Regions from separate parts of the Homo sapiens genome. Here region 2 is linked to region 1. Evidence: fine-mapped expression QTL. A gene starts in region 1. The other region holds a variant in brackets. All regions are shown on one strand. Distances are from middle to middle. Region 1 holds the start of PDE4B (phosphodiesterase 4B). Region 2 overlaps PDE4B (phosphodiesterase 4B).

Region 1 (13,442 bases):
AATTAAATTAAAATTTTCTTGTGAAGCAAAAATGAAAAAATGGTTGAAGAACATTATAACAGATTAAAGTAGTCTTTAGAATTATATTAACATTCTTTATTTCTATGTTTAACCCCTTATAATTTCTTACTTTGTATTTATTTTTTTTATTAATTTAACAATTATTTTAAATATTAAAAAGGCTGGCTTTTCAAATTACACATTAGCTCTAATCACCTTCCTTTCTTAACTCATTTATTAATTCTTCTAAATTGTTTAATATTTTTTAGTTTTCTTCTATTTAATAGTTGTTTTTCTAACTTTTTGAGTTGGTGCATAATTCATGAATTAAGCTTAAGCTGTATCACGGAATTCTATTCAGTAGTGTTTTCATACCTCATTATTTTCAAGAAATCCTACAATTTTTGTTCATAAAGTTATTTAAGAGAGTTTTTTGTTTAGAATTTTCACGTGGAAAGATTTTTATTTTTCTGATTTTTCTATTAATTTCTGTTTTTATGGAATTGTGATCATATAGTGTTGTCCATAATTTCCTATTTTTGCATTTTATCTTTATGGTTTAATAAATGGCAATTTTTATGAATATAATATTAGCCCTTAAAAAGAATATGTAATCTCTACTTTTGAGGCACAAAGTCTGATATATGTAGAGTTTGACTGAGGGAGATGAGTAAAACTGTCCTATTTTTGGTCTGTTACTTTCCATATGTCTTTATATCTCTTGTAATAAAACTTGTATATACAAATTTCTGCTATGTATTTGGTTCATAGATATTTATAAATTTCACATCTTCATTGTGATTTTTACTTTTTCTATCATAAAGTGCTTTTCTTTGTTTTATTTAATACTTGTTTGTCCTGAGTCCAACTTGTCTGAAATTAAAGTCATAAGTACTGCTATATTATTATTATTCCTTTTCCATGTATTTGGGTGGGGGGAATGTGCAGGGGCATTATTTGGGTAAAACTCTGCTCTTCCTTTAATTTTCAACCATCTGAACCTTTTTTTTCCAATGTGTACTTATATATAGCATGGAGTTTTGGTTTTAATGCAATTTGAAAATGCTTTTAAAAAATAGCTTAAAATGTGTATTGATTGAAAAATATTTGTCACAATTCTTTGATATATACATGGATACGTGTGTGATTATACACATGCGCATGAGTTTATGGTTCCTCTGACATTTAACAAGGTGTGCACTAAGGTGCAAATTTGCTCTCCAGCTGCTACCTTTATAATTCCATCTTTATATACTCATATTCTCTATTGTTTTGGATATAACAGTTATGAGCAATGATAAATTGGTATGTATCCTCTTCTTTTTCCTATACTGCATTTTATCAGCTGTCATATTTTGTTTAAAAATTACATTTCTTAGTGTTTATCTTTTTATGTTATGCGTGCTTACTCTACTACTTGTATGTCAGCTTTAAATGACATTTTCAACCTCAACAGTTACAGGTGAGTCAGTCAATGAACTTATTCTAATTACCACCATCTTTTTTCTTTCCCTTCCTAACATTTGTGATTTGTGTCATTTCTATATTTTCAAAACCTATAACATTCAAACATTTTTTGTAGTATTAGTTTTACAGTAAAAATATATTTGGTGTTCACCACCAGTCATTTTGAGAAAGTTTTCCCTTTTTTATTCTAGTATATCCCCTTATGGGAGGAATATTCTTTGAGTTTTAATGTTTAAAAATATGACATTTATATATGATGAATAACTAGCCAGATATAAAATCCTTAGATCATTATTTTTTTTCATGAGAATATAATAAGTTTTGTTTCCATTCTCATTGGAACAAAAGCCCATTGTCATTAGGCTTTGAATGTTGCTTTCAAGAAGACTGAGGGTAGGTTGATTTCTTTTTCTTTCTACAAGAATTGATTTTTTTTTCTTTTCTGCTTCAAAGGTTCCTTACATATATATAAAACTCAATAATTTGTTAGTATATTTCTTTGTTCAACCATCATGAATCATTTTTTTCTACTACATGGTATTTATTTTGAACATGTAGATTGAAGTCTTTTTTTTATCAGTTTCAAGAAAGTTTTTTAAAAATTTTGCTTAAACATTTGCTCTGTTCCACTGATAAGGTTTTCTTCTTTTTTTTTCTGGGTGATTTTTTTTTTGTTTTAAAATTATTATTATACTTTAAGTTTTAGGGTACATGTGCAACATGTGCAGGTTAGTTACATATGTATACATGTGCCATGCTGGTGTGCTGCACCCATTCTTCTTTAGAGACTCCAATTATATGTGTGTTGTATTTCATCTATCATTATCAGTTTCACACAAATACTTTTATTTGCTATGTCTTACTTATCTGCAATACTTAGTCCTTTTTTGTATTTCTTCCAATATTGTCTTCATTTCTGTCATGGTTTGCTTTTCTTCTTCTTTCTGCTAAAAAAATCAACTAATTTCATCCTCCTCATCTCTCTCTTGAGTTTCTTCATTTGTGCCTTTTGGTTTTCCTTAATAGATGATGTTTATTTCTTAACATATCAACAAATATGCTTAATTTAGAGAAACTATGCTGCTTATGAATAAGAGCAAAGACTCTAGAACAAGATTAACTGTGTTTAAATACGGGGTCTTCCTCTAACTGTGTGATCTTGAGTGTTACTTAACTTGTCCCTTAGGTCTTTAAATCTATATAATGGTAATAATAATAACAATATCTAATTTACAGAGTTGTGTTGAGAATCAGTTGAGTTCATATCTCTACAAAGTGGTAAGAATATTGCCTGGCAACAGTAAATACTATGCTAAAGTATTATTAGTTTTTTTCTTGCATTTCGAAATTTATAGTCACAATTTTAATTGTCTCTGTGACAACACTTTTTCCTCTCATCTATTAAAAAGTTTTGATGCTAATTTTCTGAATTTTAAAAATAGTATGTCTGTATCTGTGTTATGCCAGTTTCTTCTTTATCACTGCTCACTATTGAATGAATTATTTTTCTGGTCAAATTCCTTAGAGAAAGTTCCTGAAGTGGAGGTTGCAAAGTGGCTTTCCTGTTCTCAAAACAAATAGCTCCCACTTAATGATCCCCAATAATTGACACCTCCCTCTACCCATGCCCATAAAATACTCCCACATTGACTCTGGACTTAGCTACATGACTTGCTTTAGCCAACGGGACATTAACAAACACAACACATACAGAAGCTTGAAACTTGAAAGTGTGTGAACACTACAGCATGAACACTAGGCTGCCATTTCTCTTGCTACTGGGAACATGTCTACCTCCATGTGAAAAAGCCTGACTAGCTTCCTGGGAAAAGGCCCTAGGTGTCCAAGCCATCCCTTCCAGAGGCCCAGATTTGTGAGTAAGACCTGCTGATACCGCATGGGGCAGAGATTAGCCATTGAGCCCACACAGCTGAGCCCATCCCAATTTTCCATCTCACTAAATTGTAGGCAAATCACTGGTAGCTTTTTAAACCATTGTTTCGGGTGGCTTGTTATGCAGCAATAGATTATGGATTCACTTTTACTGTTGCCTCACAAACAGACTGCTTTTAGTAGTTATGGCATCTTTGTATACTCACTTCCTCTGAGACTCTGAAGGGAATTATGTCCAGAAGATCCTTTTCCAGTAGTTCTCTGCTCCCCAGTTCTTAAAAAGAAGGAACAGGACTTTTACATTTCATAGTGATTTGACCATCTTCAAGCACTAAAGTTTTGCTGACCCTGAGATCTGCTCCTACCATGTTTCTGGGAACTCCCTGTTCTCCTTTTGTCATCTGTATGTATGTATCTCTTTTGCCTTCTTCCTTCTGCTTCTGCTCCAGTTTTTGAGAGACAGCTTTGCATTTTACGACACACCTCTCATTTCCCAGAAAACATACTTTTGCTGGCACTTTCTGATACTTCTAGTGCTGGTTCCCATTGCCTCTCCCTGGGCCTTTTCCATATGACTTCTGCCCAAACTCAGCTGCTTTTGGTAACCTTTAGAAGCGCTTTGGGGTTTGTAGGTAAAATCTATATAAATTTGTTGAAAATGGTGTTTGACAGTTTTTTTCCATTCTCTTTGTTAGTTTATGTAATTTTTAGAAAGAGATGAGAAAGATGCTTAAAAAGCTGACATCATTTTCTACTGGAATCCGTATATAATTCTTTTTGCAGTAAGAACTCTTTGGACACATTTTTCTGAAGATGATGTAATAACCTTGGGAGGCTTAGTAATTATTAATACCTTTCAAATTTCTCATATTCAAAAAGGGGCAGCATGATGCTCAAATTGGTTCTTTTTTTCCCCTAGATTGAACTACAATTTAGATTCCTTACACTCTCTTTAGGCAATGGTTGCCTTATATTTAATACATCTAACTAATCCTAACTGTAGTTCAGAAAAAGAGATTCCATTATCATCATTTTACAGATGAAAACTGTGAGAACAATGACTACATTGCGGATTTTGTTGGCTTCCTTTCAGGTGCTTATTGCCTCACTATTATTAATTTTGGCTTTGGGCTCAATTTCAAGGTTATGGATGAGGTAGATGGTATAGTGTAAGCAACAGGTCCAAAAAGGCAGAATAACCAGCGAACACTTGGTAGCATCTCAGATGTGGGGAAATAGGTGTTTTATACTCCAAACGCTAGTGTTTGAATATGTTTCCTCCAAAACCATGAAGGGGAAAGTTCATTAAGTTCCTACACTGATAAGCTCTTAGACATGCCTTTCAATGTACAGGCATGTAAAGCTATTTTGGGTGAATGGGTGAATAGTAGGTTATTAGGTTATTGCCCTTCTTTGGGAGGTCCCTATTTGTCCTTTAATACACAGTTCAGATGGGATTTAAATTCCCTGACCTGTTCCTTCTCTTACATAGAAAAAATTGCTTCCACTTATGCAATTGGCATGTGCTTCTGTTGTGAAATACTTGTGTTGTTTGTCTCGGGCTTTCATAGTTGGTTCTCCTATTAGGCAGTGAGCTCCTTGGGTGCAGAGACTATGTCCTAATCGACTCTGCATCCTTAGCTTCTGCAAAGTGCTCAGTGCACAGTAGGTGTGCATGATGTTTATTGGAATAAATCGAGAAACAGGCGAATGTTGTCTATTAAAGTCATTTTGGTCTCTAGCTACTGTAGTAGTTGGATAGGCAAAGTTACTTCATGCCTATCTTCCTCCTCTTTTCCTTGCCAGCTTCCTTCTTTTTTTCTCTGACTGAAAGGGCTGGACAACCGGGGAAAAGGAAACTTGTGCTTTCCAGCATACCTCTCCCACTCTACACACACACACACACACACTCTCTCTCTCTCTCTCTCTCTCTCTCTCTCGCTCTCGCTCTCGCTCTCTCTCCATCCTGTTGCATTTTTAAAGCAGGCTCAGTCAGGTTACTGAGTGCCTGTTGCTCCATCACACGAATTCCCAAGTTGTGGGACTCACCTTCAGGGGTGTCTTGGTGGAGCACCTCTTGGGAGGTGATCTGACCTGTTGGTTCAGGAGCACTGCGCGTATTCACTCTGGCGCTCCTTTGTGCAACAGGAGACCAGAGGACTCCCACGGTCCCACTGGCTCCTTCCACGTAATGTGCCCCGCTGGCTCTCTCGCCTCCCCCAACCCGGGGGTCTGCGTCCCCTGCGCCCCAGTCCCTCTTTGTGCAGCCAGTAGCTGCAGAGCTCTTCGTCTTGTATTCATGGCAGATGCACAGCGAGTGACTGACACGTTCCAGGGACGGCGAATGGGAAAGAGCGCGGGCGGCCGGGGGAGGGTGTGTAGTGGCAGACGGCCGCTGGGATTATGAATGGGGGCTGGGGGGCCGGCGAGTGTGGGGTTCAAACCAGGATTTTCGGTCTCTGGCTTTGGATAGGCACGCAGGGCTGTGCGTAATCCTTCAGCTCTGGTGGTAAGGGAGATGCAGTGAGCTCCCGGCTGGGAGAGAGGGTTATTTTGCAAAACTCCCCTGGTACCGTGCCCGCGGAATATTGCAGGAGGTCTGTGAGGTAGGTGGGGGAAAAAATAACCTGGGAGGGCAATCAGGGAGAGGCCAGACGACTGGGGACGGCGTGCTTTGCACCCTAGAATTGACAGGTGGTGGCCTCAGCAGTTACAACCTACTACACAGCATCTCGTCCGTGCGATACGGTCACATTGTTATTCCCCGCACCCGGCTGAGGAGCGCAGCGCGGCAGACCAAGTGGCACCGGCGAGCTGTCTCTCTTCCGGGGGGCGGGGGTGGACAGTAGGGAGAGGGGGTTTAAAGGGCCAGAGGACGAGAGAAGAGCTGAGGGGCGCGTCGCCAGCGCCTGTGTCTCCCTGGCGCGGGTTCCCCAGGCTAGCCCGCTGGCCCGTCCGCGCGCGCGCCCCCGGCCCGCGCGCCCCTTCCCGGGGCTCCTGGCCTCGCCTCAGCGGCTGCAGGCTCTTCGTCGCGGGCCGGGCTGCACGCGAGCGCCCTCCGGGCAGACTTTCGTCCCCCACCCCCGGGAGCGCGGAAGGCTCACTCGCAGCGCATGGTCTACCCGCGCCGGGCGGAGCCCCGGCGTCCAGAGCGCTGCGGCCGCGGCGGTGCAGCAGAGGCGCCTCGGGCAGGAGGAGGGCGGCTTCTGCGAGGGCAGCCTGAGGTAAGGGCTGCCTAGGAGGCTGCGGGTTTATTTTTCCTCATTCTCTTACTTCATCACACACTGAAGCCTCAATGGAGAGTGTAGGGTGCTGTGGGGCTGATGTGGGGCAAAGAGGGAATGGGGCCGCCGGGCCTGGATGGTCGTCTTGACGGCGTCATTGTCGCCCCTTGTAGGAAATCCGCCAACCGGCCCCTAGCCTTTCGCCCTCATCTTCTCTGCTTCGGCTTCCGCCCTTGGACCTCTTGACAAGTCACTGGGGAGGAGAGGATGGAGAGAGGCTAAGGGAGAATGGAGAGAGGCAGAAGGATTCAGGGCTTGGAAGCCCTGGAGTAGGTGACGGATGGGCGCGCGGTGCCCAGTGATTGACTGCAGGCAGCGGGCGCGGAAGGGAACCTGAACTACCCAAGAGTTTGCTGGGCTGAGGCTCCAGGATGCTCCTGCGTGCCCTGGTGGCTGGGGCACCAAGGAGGGGCGCACTCAAGCCTCGGCATCACCAAGGCTCTGCCAGGAACTTTTGGGAAGATTTGTCTGGTGTTTGGTGAGGGGGCTTGGACCTTTCTAGCTACAAGAGTGTGTTGGGGAAGGAAGAGGCTCTCCTCCTTTCTCCTGTCACTTTCCTTCATGCCTACTCTCTTCTTCCATCTTCCTGTTTTGCCTCCTTCCTTCCCGTTTTTCACAGGCCACCTTCCTTGTGCGGTACTTCAAACACAAATCGGAACCCACTATGGCCAACAGCTTTAAAGCGTGTATAAGGAGGAGCGCACAGAAGAATCGCTCTTAATTACAGTAGTTATATATGTGTGTGTGTGTGTCTGTGTGTGTCACACACGTGCCTGGGATAATTTTTAGCAAGACTTTGAGACGGTCACCTAAAATTACATTGTACTTACATTAGGTTTACATCATAATTATATGATGCCACTGAACAGAAATGGTAACTCTATGCATTCTGCATCTTAGATCTGAGATATAACTGTTCTTTGAATCACATGCATCGTTTAATTTCAAAGATTTCCAGCTGCTGGAAAACTCTTGGCTAAGTTATAAGAATGAAAGGCACATTAAGCATAAAAAAAGTAATAAATGTCCAGATACTATTTTTATTAGTAGATCATACTCCCCCTCCGTTTCCTTTTGCCAAAAGCTGTTATTATACCAATTATATTCATAAAAACGAAACAAATTTGGAGATTTCAGTGTTTTTACCTACAACCTGAAGTGTAGGTAGGGGTCTAGAATTTATCTGTACATGAATTCACAAGAAGATAGATAAGGCCAATGATTTCACTGCAGGTAAAGGAAGTTGAGCTTCTTCTCTCTCAGGATACCTCATTTCTTGGTATCCCAAGAGAGAAATCCCCTTAATGTCAATAAATATAGCATTGGTCTCTTCAGCTCTTCAAATCAATACTTGTAGGACTTGACTGTAATATGTTTGCTGGCTGTTTCTATTCTTTTTCATTTTCTAAACAACAACGTGCCAATTTTGTTAATTTACAAAAAATAAGTAAGATTGTTAAATGGACTGGAATTTATGAGATGGCATGATCGATGCATTGAGGCTGTTTATCTATATATCTATCATCTTTCTATTTTTCTTGTTACAGTTGGGAGCTAAACAATGTTGCAGTGTGTCTACTTGTATTTTTATCAGCTGATTTGCTTTTCAGTTTCTTTATGGCTTGACATATTTTGCAAAAATGAATTGTCTTAAATTTCTCTAGAGAGTAACCTGTTAGACATACTGTTTGCTTTCAAAATAGGACTGTTTTTTGATTTGAGGAATAAGAAATCAATCATACATGGTTTTCTGATCTTGGAGTCCTTTGCCTGTCTAGAGACAGGTATTTAAGTATTTAACAGTAATAGTTACTGTGTATGTACAAATAAAGGCTTGTTTGATAAAGATACTGGACACAGAAATAATAATTCCATTTTGGTTTACAAATGCAATATTTAAAATTGTGAAGAAATAAAGAGTTCTAGGTTACTCCTAATATCTTACTTGACTTAATTTGGCTAAGGAGCAAGAGGTATATGAAGAGGTCTTCAGTTAGAAAGATTTGGTGGTTAGTAATTTATTATCATGTCATACAATTTCACCCATTTCTATTTCCAAAAACCTTCAAACAGCATAGTTTGGACAAGGTTTAGGATGTTGCTGACCACAAAACAAATGAGTTCCTTCAGGCACTGGCTATTGTAGCCACCATGTGGTAATACAGTGGACACTGTGATGTGCCAAATCGTTCTTCAAGGAGGGACTTGTTGCCCCAGCTTCTGGGAGTGTGGTCAACAGATGGCCTTCAATAGTCAGACTCTTCAGGGATTGCCTGAGCTGTAGAAAGCTCCCTTGTCCAAGGTCACACCCCTTTCCAGCGCAGCTCACATCCAATGGCTGATCCATGTGGGAGTATAAAGGTTGGGCCATTGCAGCACAACTCTGGAAAACTCTGAAGGATCTTTCTAGCTCTGGAGCTCCCTGAGGGCTTGCATTGCAGCTCTACTTCTCTCTTTGGTCCTTTCTGTTTCCTTCCCCATCCTTCCTCAGGTGTGGATAACAAGGCGGTTCCCAAGAAAATAGGGCTTTGAACTTCATTTCAGAATTAGCTTGCCAGGGAAACCCACCTGTGACTATGTTCTTACCCCATACATTCATTTTGCCAGTTTTAATCCATTGGTCTTTTGAAATGTGGTGTTTCAACCATCAAATATGATATAGAAGATGCATATGTGGAAGGAATTTATAGTTGACAGTTTCTTTTTCTTCCAGCACTTGAAAAATGTTATGTCACTTCATTTCAGGCCTCCCTGGTTTCAATGAGAAATTTGTTGTTGTTTGAATTGACGTTCCCTTATACACAATGCGTCATTTCTCTCTGGAGAGTTTCAAGAATATTTTCTATATCTTCATTTTTTGGAAGTTTGATTATGATGTGTTTTGGCATGAATTTCTTTTGGTTTGCTCTGTTTGGGATTTGATGAAGTTTTTAAAATGTAGGTTTGTCTTTCACCAAGTTGGGAGATTCTTAGGCATTATTTCTTCAAACACAAAAGTGTTTCAGCCCCACTCTCTTTCTTATCTGCTTCTGTGACTCTGATGATATGAAAGTTGGATCTTTTGTTGTTGTCCTACAAGACCCCGAGGCTTGGTTCATCATTTTTTTTTCTGGTATTTTCTCTTTGTTCAAATAGAAAACATTCATTGGTCTGTTTTCAAGTTCGCTGATTCTGTCCTCTGTCTTCTCTACTACAGAGCCCATCTAGTATTTTATTTTGATTACTATATTTTTCAACTCAATAATTTCCATTTGGTTCTTTTTGCAGCTTATGCTTATTTGCTGAGACATTCTATTTTTTCATTAGTTTCTAGAGAATTTGTATTTGCTTGCTGAAACTTTTTTTTTTTTTTTTTTTTTGAGACAGAGTCTCACTCTGTCACCCAGGCTGGAGTGCAGTGGCATGATCTTGGCTCTCTGCAAACTCTGCCTCCTGAGTTCAAGCGATTCTCCTGCCTTAGCTTCCTGAGTACCTGGGACTATAGGTGCGTGCCACCATGCCCAGGTAATTTTTTGTATTTTTAGTGGAGAAGCGGTTTCACCATTTTGGCTAGGATGGTCCCGATCTCCTGACCTCATGATCTGCCTGCCTCAGCCTCCCAAAGTGCTGGGATTACAGGCTTGAGCCACCGTGTCTAGCCTGAAACATTTTTTTTTTTTTTTGAGATGGAGTCTCGCTCTGTTGCCTAGGCTGGAATGCAGTGGCACTATTTCCACTCACTGCAAGCTCCACCTCCCAGGTTCACGCCATTCTCTGGCCTCAGCCTTCTGAGTGGCTGGGATTACAGGTGCCCGCCACCACGCCTGGCTAATTTTTTTGTATTTTTTAGTAGAGACGGGGTTTCACCATGTTAGCCAGGATGGTCTCGATCTTCTGACCTCGTGATCCACCTGCCTCGGCCTCCCAAAGTGCTGGGATTACAGGTGTGAGCCACTGCGCCCGGCCAACATTTTTAGAATAAATGCTTTGTAATCTTTGTCAGATAATTCCAACATCTGATTCACTTAATTGTTGGTGTCACTTGATTGTCTTTTCTCATTCAAGTTGTGGTCATATTTTGGACATTTTAGCTATTGTGTTAGAAGGCTCTGGGTTTCTATTTAAATCTTGTATTTTAACAGATAATCACTCTGTTTAGGGTAACACACAGATCCTGGCCTACTTTTGTGGGCAGTGGTTTCAATGACAATTTAATTTCTAGAGGCTTTGAGGTGCTGTTAGTCTGCCTGGTTTGTCTGGTGCTTCCGGGGCTCCCACTGAACGCTGCTGGTGCCACCTGAAGGGGAAGAAGAAGCCTCCCCAGGCCAGGCCCTGTTGTGCCTCTAGGTTAGAGAAGTGTCTCTAAGTGACTTTCAGCCTTGCAGAAATAAGGAGCATTCTTAGACCTGGAACTTGTGGCAGGATTCCTGGTGCCAGTGCTCTGAGGCCACCTAGTATTGTCAAATGGACCCCAGTTAGATGCAGACAAGGAATGAGCCTACCTAGATCATTTCCTACTACTAGGTTAGGAGTCGGGAGACTCTGGGCCTGGGTAATCTGCTGTTGAATAGAGAGTTGGAAGACATCCACTGCTCTATTGCTCTACTGTTCCTCCAGCCTAGAGGTCACTAAGCAGTCCATTTCCCTCTTGCCACCATTCTCAGTCCTCCTTGGGATGCCCCTTGCATTATTTTTATTTTTTAATTTTAAAAATGTTTAAAAATTTATTTATTTATTTATTTATTTTTTGAGATGGAGTTTCGCTCTGTCACCCAGGCTGGAGTGCAGTGGTGCATCTCGGCTCACTCCAACCTCTGCCTCTCGGGTTCAAGCAATTCTTCTGCCTCAGCCTCCCAAGTAGCTGGGATTACAGGTGTGTAACACCATACCTGGCTAATTTTTGTATTTTTTTTAGTAGAGATGGGGTTTCACCATGTTGGCCAGGCTAGTCTTTTTTTTTTTTTTTTTTTTTTTTTTTTTTTGAGACGGAGTCTCGCTCTGTCGCCCAGGTCGGACTGCGGACTGCAGTGGCGCAATCTCGGCTCACTGCAAGCTCCGCTTCCCGGGTTCACGCCATTCTCCTGCCTCAGCCTCCCGAGTAGCTGGGACTACAGGCGCCCGCCACCGCGCCCGGCTAATTTTTTGTATTTTTAGTAGAGACGGGGTTTCACCTTGTTAGCCAGGATGGTCTCGATCTCCTGACCTCGTGATCCACCCGCCTCGGCCTCCCAAAGTGCTGGGATTACAGGCGTGAGCCACCGCGCCCGGCCGTGCCAGGCTAGTCTTGAACTCCTGACCTCAAGTGATCCACCTGTCTTGGCTTCCCAAAGTGCTGGGATTACAGGCGTAAGCCACTGCACCCGGCTTTTTAAAAACACTCTAGTTTAAATCCTCAACCACATTATCCATTACTATCATTGAAAATACTAGTTTGATTGTATTTCCCTGTAATATATATCTGTTAGGTGTGGAGACATAGTTTAAACCTTAGTTCAAGATAGCTTATTTAAATTAAGTTAATTAATATTACTGTAATTACAGAATTAAATGTCAAATCATACCCTGTCTGTAGAGTCTAAGACAAAAATCTTGGTATGTGACGTTTACTCTATGGAACATTTTTTTTTCAAGTTATCTTAATGCATTTGAAAAATATTAGTACTTCTTATTTATTGCCATCTTTGTGGGAAAGGCTAAAAAATCCTTTATCCTGTGGACACTTTAACCTTAGAGAAAGTAAATGACATTATTTCCATAAGCAACTTGCTGATATTTTGAATGGATTAAGGAGCAGATACCAGGATTCTGTCTTTGGCTCTCCTAGTATATCACAGTGCTGACTCATAGAATTATGGCATTTTCAGAACTGAAAGTGATCTTAGAGATCACCTATTTCAACCTTATTGTTTTATATTTTAGAAAACTGACATGTTAAAAAGCCATAAGGAAATCTAAGTTCCTTCAGTTCAGTGATGGCAGGGCTTGTTTATTCTGAGTTCTTAGAATTTCCTAATTTGATATTTTCTTTAAGAAATCAGAATTGCCTTCCTTTGAGAAGGCTTATTAAAAATTTATTTTGAGGTATAATCTCTCAGTACCCCTTTTTTAACAAGAAAAACTACTTCAATAAGTTGGGAGGACATGATTTTTTTAAATAAAAATAGGCTTGTTTGAAAATCTGAGGGACATATGGATTAATTATCCAGAAAAATGAACATATAGTCAAAAATTTGCATTCAATATTAAGTATTTATGGATTCCTAGGAAAGACCTCCAGATACTGTTTTGTGTTATACTCATGCACTAACTGTGGATTGTCTTTGTTGGGGAAAGTGATAGGGATAATGACTTATTTTATAGTCTGGGTCAGCCTTAAAGGCCTGTGGATGGTGACAGTTGTCCTGGGCATGCTACATTGGTATACTGCAGGATTTGTCTCCCTGCAGATTCTAGAGTGGCAGTAGGTGAGAAGGATGTAGCAGGACCAGCAGGTGTTCAAACAGACTGACTGTGCGAAATACAAACAGGGAACTCAGCCCACAGTGCTTGCTCTCTCCTCCCCCATAACACACACACATACACTTACAACATATATTAAGATTCCTTAGAAAGATTCTCCATCTGTTTCTTTCTGCTCTCACCTTCTTACTATATGGAGAAACAGTGTCCTTTTGAGATCATTCTTTTTCTGATAAGATTGCTTTAGTGGTCATTTAAAACCAATTTCACCTATATCAAATGTTAAGGGCTGAAAAAAGAAAGATTAAAGCAGCATCTGCTGTATATACTGGGGGGATTTTTCTAAGGGTAAAAACAAAA
Region 2 (8,000 bases), 530 kb after region 1:
TCTCCTATCAGTCTTTCCCTGTCTGCGTTCATGAGCATACTCTGATGTTCCCCTTGCCTGGAATACTTTCCTCTCCCTTGACACTTAATTCTTATTCCTCAAAATCTCATAACTTTCCAAGGCAGGCCTTCCTTCACATCCCACTTTTCAGATTTTGGGTCCCTGGTTATCCCTATTATAAATGTTTATAGCATTCTACACTTCTTAGTATCTCTGTTCCAAGTTGTACTAAGTTTTTGCATAATTATTTTTCTATTCCTCTTAGGATATAGGCTTCAAGTAAGCAAAACCTAATATTCAGCACTATACCCTTAGAGTTTCATGATGTGCCTACAACATAATAGGCACTCAAAAATTTTACTCATTAATTATTTATCGTATCATATTCAATAAATAATAGCCAACATTCATCTGGTACTTGTAATGTACCATGCACTGTCCTAAGCACTTTACATTTATTTATTTGTTAACCAGATGCTACAGCCCATTAAAATAGATACTATTATTATTCTCATTACACAGATGAGGAAACTGGGGCACAGAGAAGTAACATCTTATGTAACAAAGTTTTATAACAGTAAGTGGTGGTACTGGAATATGAACCAAGGCAGTCTAACCCCAGAGACCAAGCTTTTAATCACTGCTCTATATCCTTCATAAATATTTTGTCAATATATTTACTTTGTTAGAAAAATAATTGGACAGCAGCTTGCCTCTATCCCTATCACTTTCTTGTGTCATTGGTCTTCAATACCAATACAGGTAGATAATTAAGTTCTTTGAACATCCCTTCACATTGGTGGTACATGTTTTAGCTGGATGAGAACAGATTCTCGTTAGCATATAAATGCCAAAGGCAGAGTTCTGGAGAGCAGGTTTTCCTAAGGGTAAGGACATTAAAAGAGTGGGAGGTAGACCAAAAGGAAACAGTGCTATGAGGCTGGCACATCAAAGACATAGTTTTGCCTTGACTAAGCCTATCTCTGTAAAAGAAAGAGAAACTTAGACCATTTATTTATAACAGGCCCAGTGGTTTAGCAAAAAAGTTATGGAATTTAGAATCAATATGTCAATCAATATAATTAAAATGTCTCCTTCATTCTCCCTCCTTTTCCCATCTTCCCCTCTCAATCTCTCTGTCCTTCTTCTTTGCCTCCCTCCCTCCCAGCCGCATCATATCACTTTGAGCAAATTGTTAAATGCATCCAAGCCTCAATTTTCTCACATTCATAATGGAAAATGTATGTCATAATGATAATAATTTCTCTCTTGGGGTTATTTTTCAAGGAAAAAAATGAGATATGCAAGTGAAAGTGCTTGGTAAACTGTCAAGTTATATATATAAGAGCCAGTTGTGATTAGAAGTTTTGTTTTACTTGTAGTCTTAGAGGAATTTGCTAAAGAGATCGGCATCAAAATGACCTACTTTTCACTGTTATTTCCCTTAAGGGCAGTGAACCTCTTCTTTTATGAATCCACCCAGAGTGAAATCCCTGTCATATGCAATTGCAAAGTTCCATATCTATAAAGACATGCTAACAAAGTTCTGCCTAAAGAAAGGCTATATAGGGCTTGCAAACTTTGGTCTTGGAAGAATTGCATTGCAGTGTGTACATGTTCTCCTGTTCTTATGATTTGTTCCATAGATACTTTACCCAAGGTTAAAATAACATGCCCTCTTGAAATGTTGCACTCTAACCTGAGTGTGCTTCATTTACCAAATATTATATATTTGGACATAATAACTCATGATGAAGAAAAATTATATCTAACTCTAAGGGAAAAAATCACAACCAAGATTGCCAAATAAATAGATAAATAGGCCAGTAGCCTCAACCTAACACCTTTGCATAAAGAGATGCCAATTCCTATATGTATGAAACTATTTTACATTTTATCAAGTACTTATTGCACTATGGGAAGGAACCGAAGAATGGAGTAAGTATGCTAACTTAAAGGCATGTAGAGCCATAGGAGCAACCCAAACGTAAGACATCTACAGGGCTAGAAGCTTGTGAATGAAGCTAAAAGTAAAGCTGAATGTAAATAATCCAATTAATACACACTTCTCATTTACAAAGATCAGAAGATTATGGGAGGAAGCTGAGAAGGCGCCTAGCTTCACAGACTTACTATTTATACAAGGAAAAGGGATTTCCAATATAATCATTCGCTACAATGGACAATACCACTCCTGAAGTGTATTGTTCATTGCTGTAATCCAGCACCCACCCAGCAGCAGGCTTGGCACATAGCAGATGCTCAGTGTACTTTTGCTGAATGAATGAACAAACAACTTCCCTATACAATTCTCCACATCTGAAAGGCCACTGACCTGGTATGTCAGTTAGAATTTTGTGAAAAAACGATCCATCAGGTCAGCTCTATATTTTAGAAGTGGAAACCAACAGTCTCTAACTTAAGACAAATGTCAAGAATGCATTTTTCTGAAGTCCTACAGTGGGAAGGACGCTTTAGGATTTCATGGCCAACCTTACAAATGCTTCCTTTCCCAGGGCCAAATCAAAACTCTGTCAATGACTCAGCTGTCAAATACATGTCAATATATCATCAGGAAAGTGACCCAGGACCAGAGAAGTGGTGGGAAGGAGGGGAGAAGTTCCTGACACGTGCCGGATGCTGTACCAAAGGCTTGGCGTATACTGATTCACTTAATTCTCACACCTAGTTTAAACTATCTTCCTGTTTTACAGGTGAGGAAATGGAAGCACAGTGGGCTACTTTTCTTGTCTAAGGGCACATTGCTATTAAATGGCACAGTTATGATTTATAAACAGCTGGGGCAGACTCTACTGTGTTCCACTGAATTTTGAGTTAGTAGGGCATCCTGGTCTATGTCACATTAAAACCAACATTTGTCGTTGTTTTTTAGCTATGTGAGATTTACTCAAACTCTGTTGATACCCATTGTTATAGCTAAACAAAAGGAAAGGAAATGTTTTTTAGAAATTCTGCTCTTGTTTTTTTAAACTGGGCTTCCCCTAGATGGGACTATCTGTTGAAAGCCTACATGGACAACCAGAAAGACAGCAAAGTGCACAAATCACAAGTTTAGAAATCAGTGAGTTCTTATAAAGTGAACATACCTATGTAACCAGTTCCCAGACCAAGAAATAGATCATTGCCAACCCTATAGAAAGCCCTTCAAGTCCCTCCTGGTCACTAAGCCCACAAGGTAGCCAATATCTTGACTTCTATTACTATAGATTAGTTTTTGCCTCTTTGGAACTTTATGGAATTTGACCCATACTATTTTTTCATATACATTTTAATATTTGGTTTCCTTTGTTCCACATTTATGTTTATGATATTCATTCCTGTTGCTGCATGTGGCAATTGGTCCAATTGTTTTAGCCACTAGAATAACTTTGCAAATAGTTACCACCTTCTCTAATAGAAAGGGAGTCCAATTATGTGAGGCCCATAAAGGTTATGTACAGCTCTTTTCTGTGTGCTTTCTGTGGATAGAAAGTGTGGGTGACTTGACAGATAAGTTTCTGATATATAGAGATATGTTGGAATATCATTTAGATATAATTTATAGGAAATTTATATTTGGGTAATATTGTGATGCTTTCAATTGCTAATCATGTGTAATTGAGGGCAGAGCATTTTTTCCTCTCAGCCTCAGTTTTCTCAACTGTATTACAAGCCATGAGACTTAAGGTTTCAAAGTTAAATGATGCCAGATACATAAAGGGCCCCTGTGCCTACTTTTCCAAGAGATCAGTGTAGTCATAAGATTACACTTCCCTGCACAGATTGCAGGGCCAGCTTTTAGGGCACCTGAGGTCTTTCACCAGTGGGGCCACTGATTTCATAACTGCTAAAATGTGTCCCCATGTTTTCTAACTATGAGCAACTAGCTATTTGTGGCCAGGCAGAGGTTTCTAATTACCCTTTCCTGTCACTCTTCTCTGGATCTCTCCCTCTTCCCAACAGGACTCTGCTAACTCACACACCCATTTCTACTAGATTGGCATTTAAAAAGCTGGGGAAGTTGGTCTATGAACCTAAGTATTAGATTAACTGAAAAATCATTGAAACAGAAAAAAAATAAAAAGATCATTGACTGAAAATAAGAATGTTGCTCAGCAGTTTGTACAATGTGATCCTATTTATGTTATATACATATGTATGTTTACACAGACACACAAACACATACATGACATGCACAAAGGAGTCAACAATGGTGATCTCTGACTGCTAAAAATGTGAGATTTTTTATCATTTGAATTTTTGGCTTCTCTGCAATTTTCTATTTTTCTAAATGTGCCTATATCCCATCTGTAACAATAAATGAGATATTTGCAAAATATATTTAATACTAAAAGGTTTACAGTCCATTTTTGTGTTTATTCTCTGATTCTACCTTTCCCATGAGAATAGGATATTTTTCTTATCCTCATTTTAGAGATAAATAAATTTAGTCTTCGAGAACATAGGTAATTTACCCAAGGTAACCCACTGAAGCAAGATGCAGGACAAGAACCATACCAGGTCTTCTGAGTAAATATTGCACAGCTTCCCTGTGCATTAGGTAGATCAGAAAAGGGAAGTGGAGACTTCAGAAATGACAACATTTAGGAAAGCAGTTATGCAATTTTAAATGGAAGAGATCCGAGGGTAAGATGCAACTTTAAATGCAGCATTTTCAGGAATAGGTGCATCTTTCAGTGCTAAACTGAATCCTCTGTTTCATAGACCAAGATATAGTCTTGCTAGGAATCTGGAGGGAACTATTTGCTCTAATAATTTAATCTCTGATTTCTTAGTTTATGCCTTAAGGTAAATAAGATAATCATCCTACTTCCGTATCTATCACACAAAGATGTTGCAA[A/C]GATTAACGAATAGTGTGCTGGGAGCTCCTTTGAGAAAAGAGCTATTTGAATACCATATATCATTAGCAGATTAATATTATAATTATTTACTAAATTTCTCTTCCTGTTTCTCAGAGTCAAATGCAATACCCAGCAAACTTATAGAAGGAAGAAAATCTTTCTGTGCCACTCTTGTTGGAGTGAAAGAGGGAAAGAAGAGAGCAAGAGAAGGGAGGTTGGTTCTCCCTACTTCTTCCCTCTGGAAGTTTTTGAAAGCGAAGTTCAACTGCATGACCATACATGGTCCCATGACCTACTCTTACTGCCTCTGAGATTTGCTTCTGTGGTGTTAAACATTGTTTCTTTTCAGGGCCATCTTATGTAAGACAGGAAGAGACCCAGTTTCATGGGCATGTAACCTGTTGGGTTGCACAGGGCCCTATGCTCAGAAGGGCTCCATATTTGCCATCTTAAAACTTGTAATAATACTATCTTTGAACTTGTGTTTTATAAATGATGTCTGATGGGACAATGGAGTATGTGCCAGTGGCTTGGAGCCTTGGCTCATGCACTTCCTCACTTCCTGTCACCTGCCTGTCTCCCTGGACAAGATCCTAACCATCCTCTCCTCTGCTCGCTGGTGCCCTAGGAATCGTCCAGCTTCCTTTTTCCCACCTGCACTTGTGACCATTGCTGCCCTCCATCCCCAATCAGGGTATAGGCACAGGGAGGGTCTGAGTTAGCCACATGTGCTTTGTAGCCTCAGATGGGACATGTTAGCAGCCGTCTTTGCCCTGGGCTGGCATGGCTGTGGTAGACAGAGGCCAGGTCTTGATGGGGATGAACCTCTTGTCCACCCCTGTTTCAGGTACCCAGCATGTCCCTGCTAAGAGGTTGCAGTACCCTTAGCAGTATGCTAAGATCCAAGGGGTTGTCTGCTGTGGATAGGGGCTTGGGGACCATGAGAAGGGAGAAATACCTAATTCGACTTCCCCAGCTCTTGTGCCTGGTGGGGACACAGCTTGTCAGTCTGGCGGCTATCAGGAAGGAGTAGCCAGCTGCTGGTGAGCTATGTGCGTGCCCTTAGTCATAAGAGGCAGGGCCTTCAGGTTGCTGTGAGGGTCTGCACTCACCTCAAGGTATCCCAGTGCCTGAAATAATACAATATTTAAACACACCAAACCATTAATTGTGACAAGTGTACCATAATAATGTAAGACATTAACAATGGGGAAATTAGGATGTGGGATATGTGGGAAGCCCCTGTGTTATCTTTGCAATTTTTCCGTCAGTCTGAAAGTATTTTAAAATAAAAAGTATATGAAGAAAAAACCACCATGACAAGTTGAAAGAGAGAATGCAGAAGAAAGGAAAAAACTTTATATTTTAGTATCTTTTATAGCAATTTTACTGCTTTTTCAACAAGGGGCCCTGCACTTTCATTTTGTACTGGGCCTTTCAAATTATGCAGCTGATTCTTACTGTAAAATCCCTTATTGAATGTGCAATTCAGCTATCTCTCTTTCTTTTCTTCCTCACACTCTTTTCTACCCTTCAATGCCAGGCCTTAGGATTTCTCCAATTGCCATTAGTAATTCTCCTATGCATCTATCACCTACTAAGAACTGGCTACCATCCTAGGCACTTCATATATTTTATCTTATTTAATCCCTTTATAACTTTATGAGATAAATATTTTATCCTTCTTCTACAGATGTATGAAATTGAGGTCTAGGACCACACAGTAAGTGGTAGAAGAGAAAGTCAATATTCATGATTCTCACTCCAAATCTGGTGCTTTTTTTCACAGTGCTACAGATGGACCATTCAGCCTTCAGGTGCCCAGGTATTTGTAGGATGCTTAGGCAATTTGGTTTCCATTCCTCCAATTATTTACTGAGTATCTCCTAGGTGCTAAAACTACAAAGTTATATCAGGGAGGCCAGTCCTGCGCTGCTCTGGTCATTTTCTTTGATTGCATTCATAGGTAGCAGGTGTTTGATATCCCCCTATTTAGTACACTCTAACCTCTGTGCCCATGGCTTAGTTGCCATGATAGGAAGACTATAAAGTGGACACAAAGTCTTGACTGTGAATTAAGAATTTGGAAAGTGATACTCTAGCCTAACTAACATTGCTTCAAAATGTATTAATTTTTGCTTAAACATTTTGATGGCTGATCTGAAGAAGAGAGGACAATGGAGCAAGGTCTCTTCATATCCATTACCTGTTCACCCACATCTCACGTTGTACCAACTCTAGAAGTACCTGAGTGCTTGTTCCATGCAGTAGACAATGAATGAGCTCACTGGTGTATCTTTGAAGAGTCCTTCTCTTTTTTGTACTTCTGCGGGTATAATTACTGTATGTATTTCCTTGGTCAAGCTTGAATAGAAATCAGATCCCTTTTTTCCTCTGCATGAAGGAGAAATGTGATGTATCATCTTGCAGTCATTTTGCATATCAGTGGATTCAAAAGGCTAGGAGCAAGCTACTTTCTCCCCACCGTCCTGGTGAATGTCCAATATTAGTTACAGAGAACCACAGGTTGTGATGTGGAAGACATGAAGGTAGTAAATCCCCAGCAGCTGGGAAGTGGTTGGACTTTTTCCTTTATTAGAGGCAGGGAATGAGAATGGGAGGGTTCTGTCTCTTCAGAAAAGGCTTCCTTGGAAGAAGTGCTCTTCTGGAAGCAAACAGAGGAGGCAAGGGGTTGTTTCGGACACACTAGAGAGTAAGTCAGAGAATCTTCGTGTTGAGGCAGCATTGCAAAATTGAAGATGAAGAAAGGAAGGAAGGTATGTGTAAGTCTGGCTTGAAATGAGTTTTATTAAAAACACCTCAATTCTTGTCTGCACATTTTTGAAGAGTGTGAAAAAAAAATGGAGGAAGTTACCTCCAGTGGTTTTGTGGCTTTTTAAGCATGACATACAGGATATTGAATTTAACCCCTGTTTATCTTGAAGTGTATGAATATTTCGGGGATAAACAAAGCAACTATTCTTTGAAATATGCGTCTGTGGCCAAGTGATTCCAGTTACTTGGAATCACAGTTCTGTTGATTCTCTTTTCTGCTTCAAGTATTTGCACACCACAGACATAAGATTATTCATATAATAATTTTTAAAAACCATGTGGTCTTGCTAGAATTTCTGTATA

What was found.
Region 2: its variant is fine-mapped to the expression of PDE4B in whole blood (TOPMed, PIP above 0.99).

Annotation. Positions count from the first base shown.
Region 1 is chr1:65,786,665-65,800,106 of GRCh38, forward strand. It overlaps PDE4B (phosphodiesterase 4B), which reads left to right and starts at 6,231. Exons shown (of 17, transcript NM_002600.4): 1 at 6,231-6,584.
Region 2 is chr1:66,323,201-66,331,200 of GRCh38, forward strand. The region is part of intron 7 of PDE4B (phosphodiesterase 4B); the gene reads left to right. Among named protein-coding and RNA genes, the nearest start is that of SGIP1, 210 kb to the right of the region's middle. The variant A/C (reference allele first, on the strand shown) is at 4,862.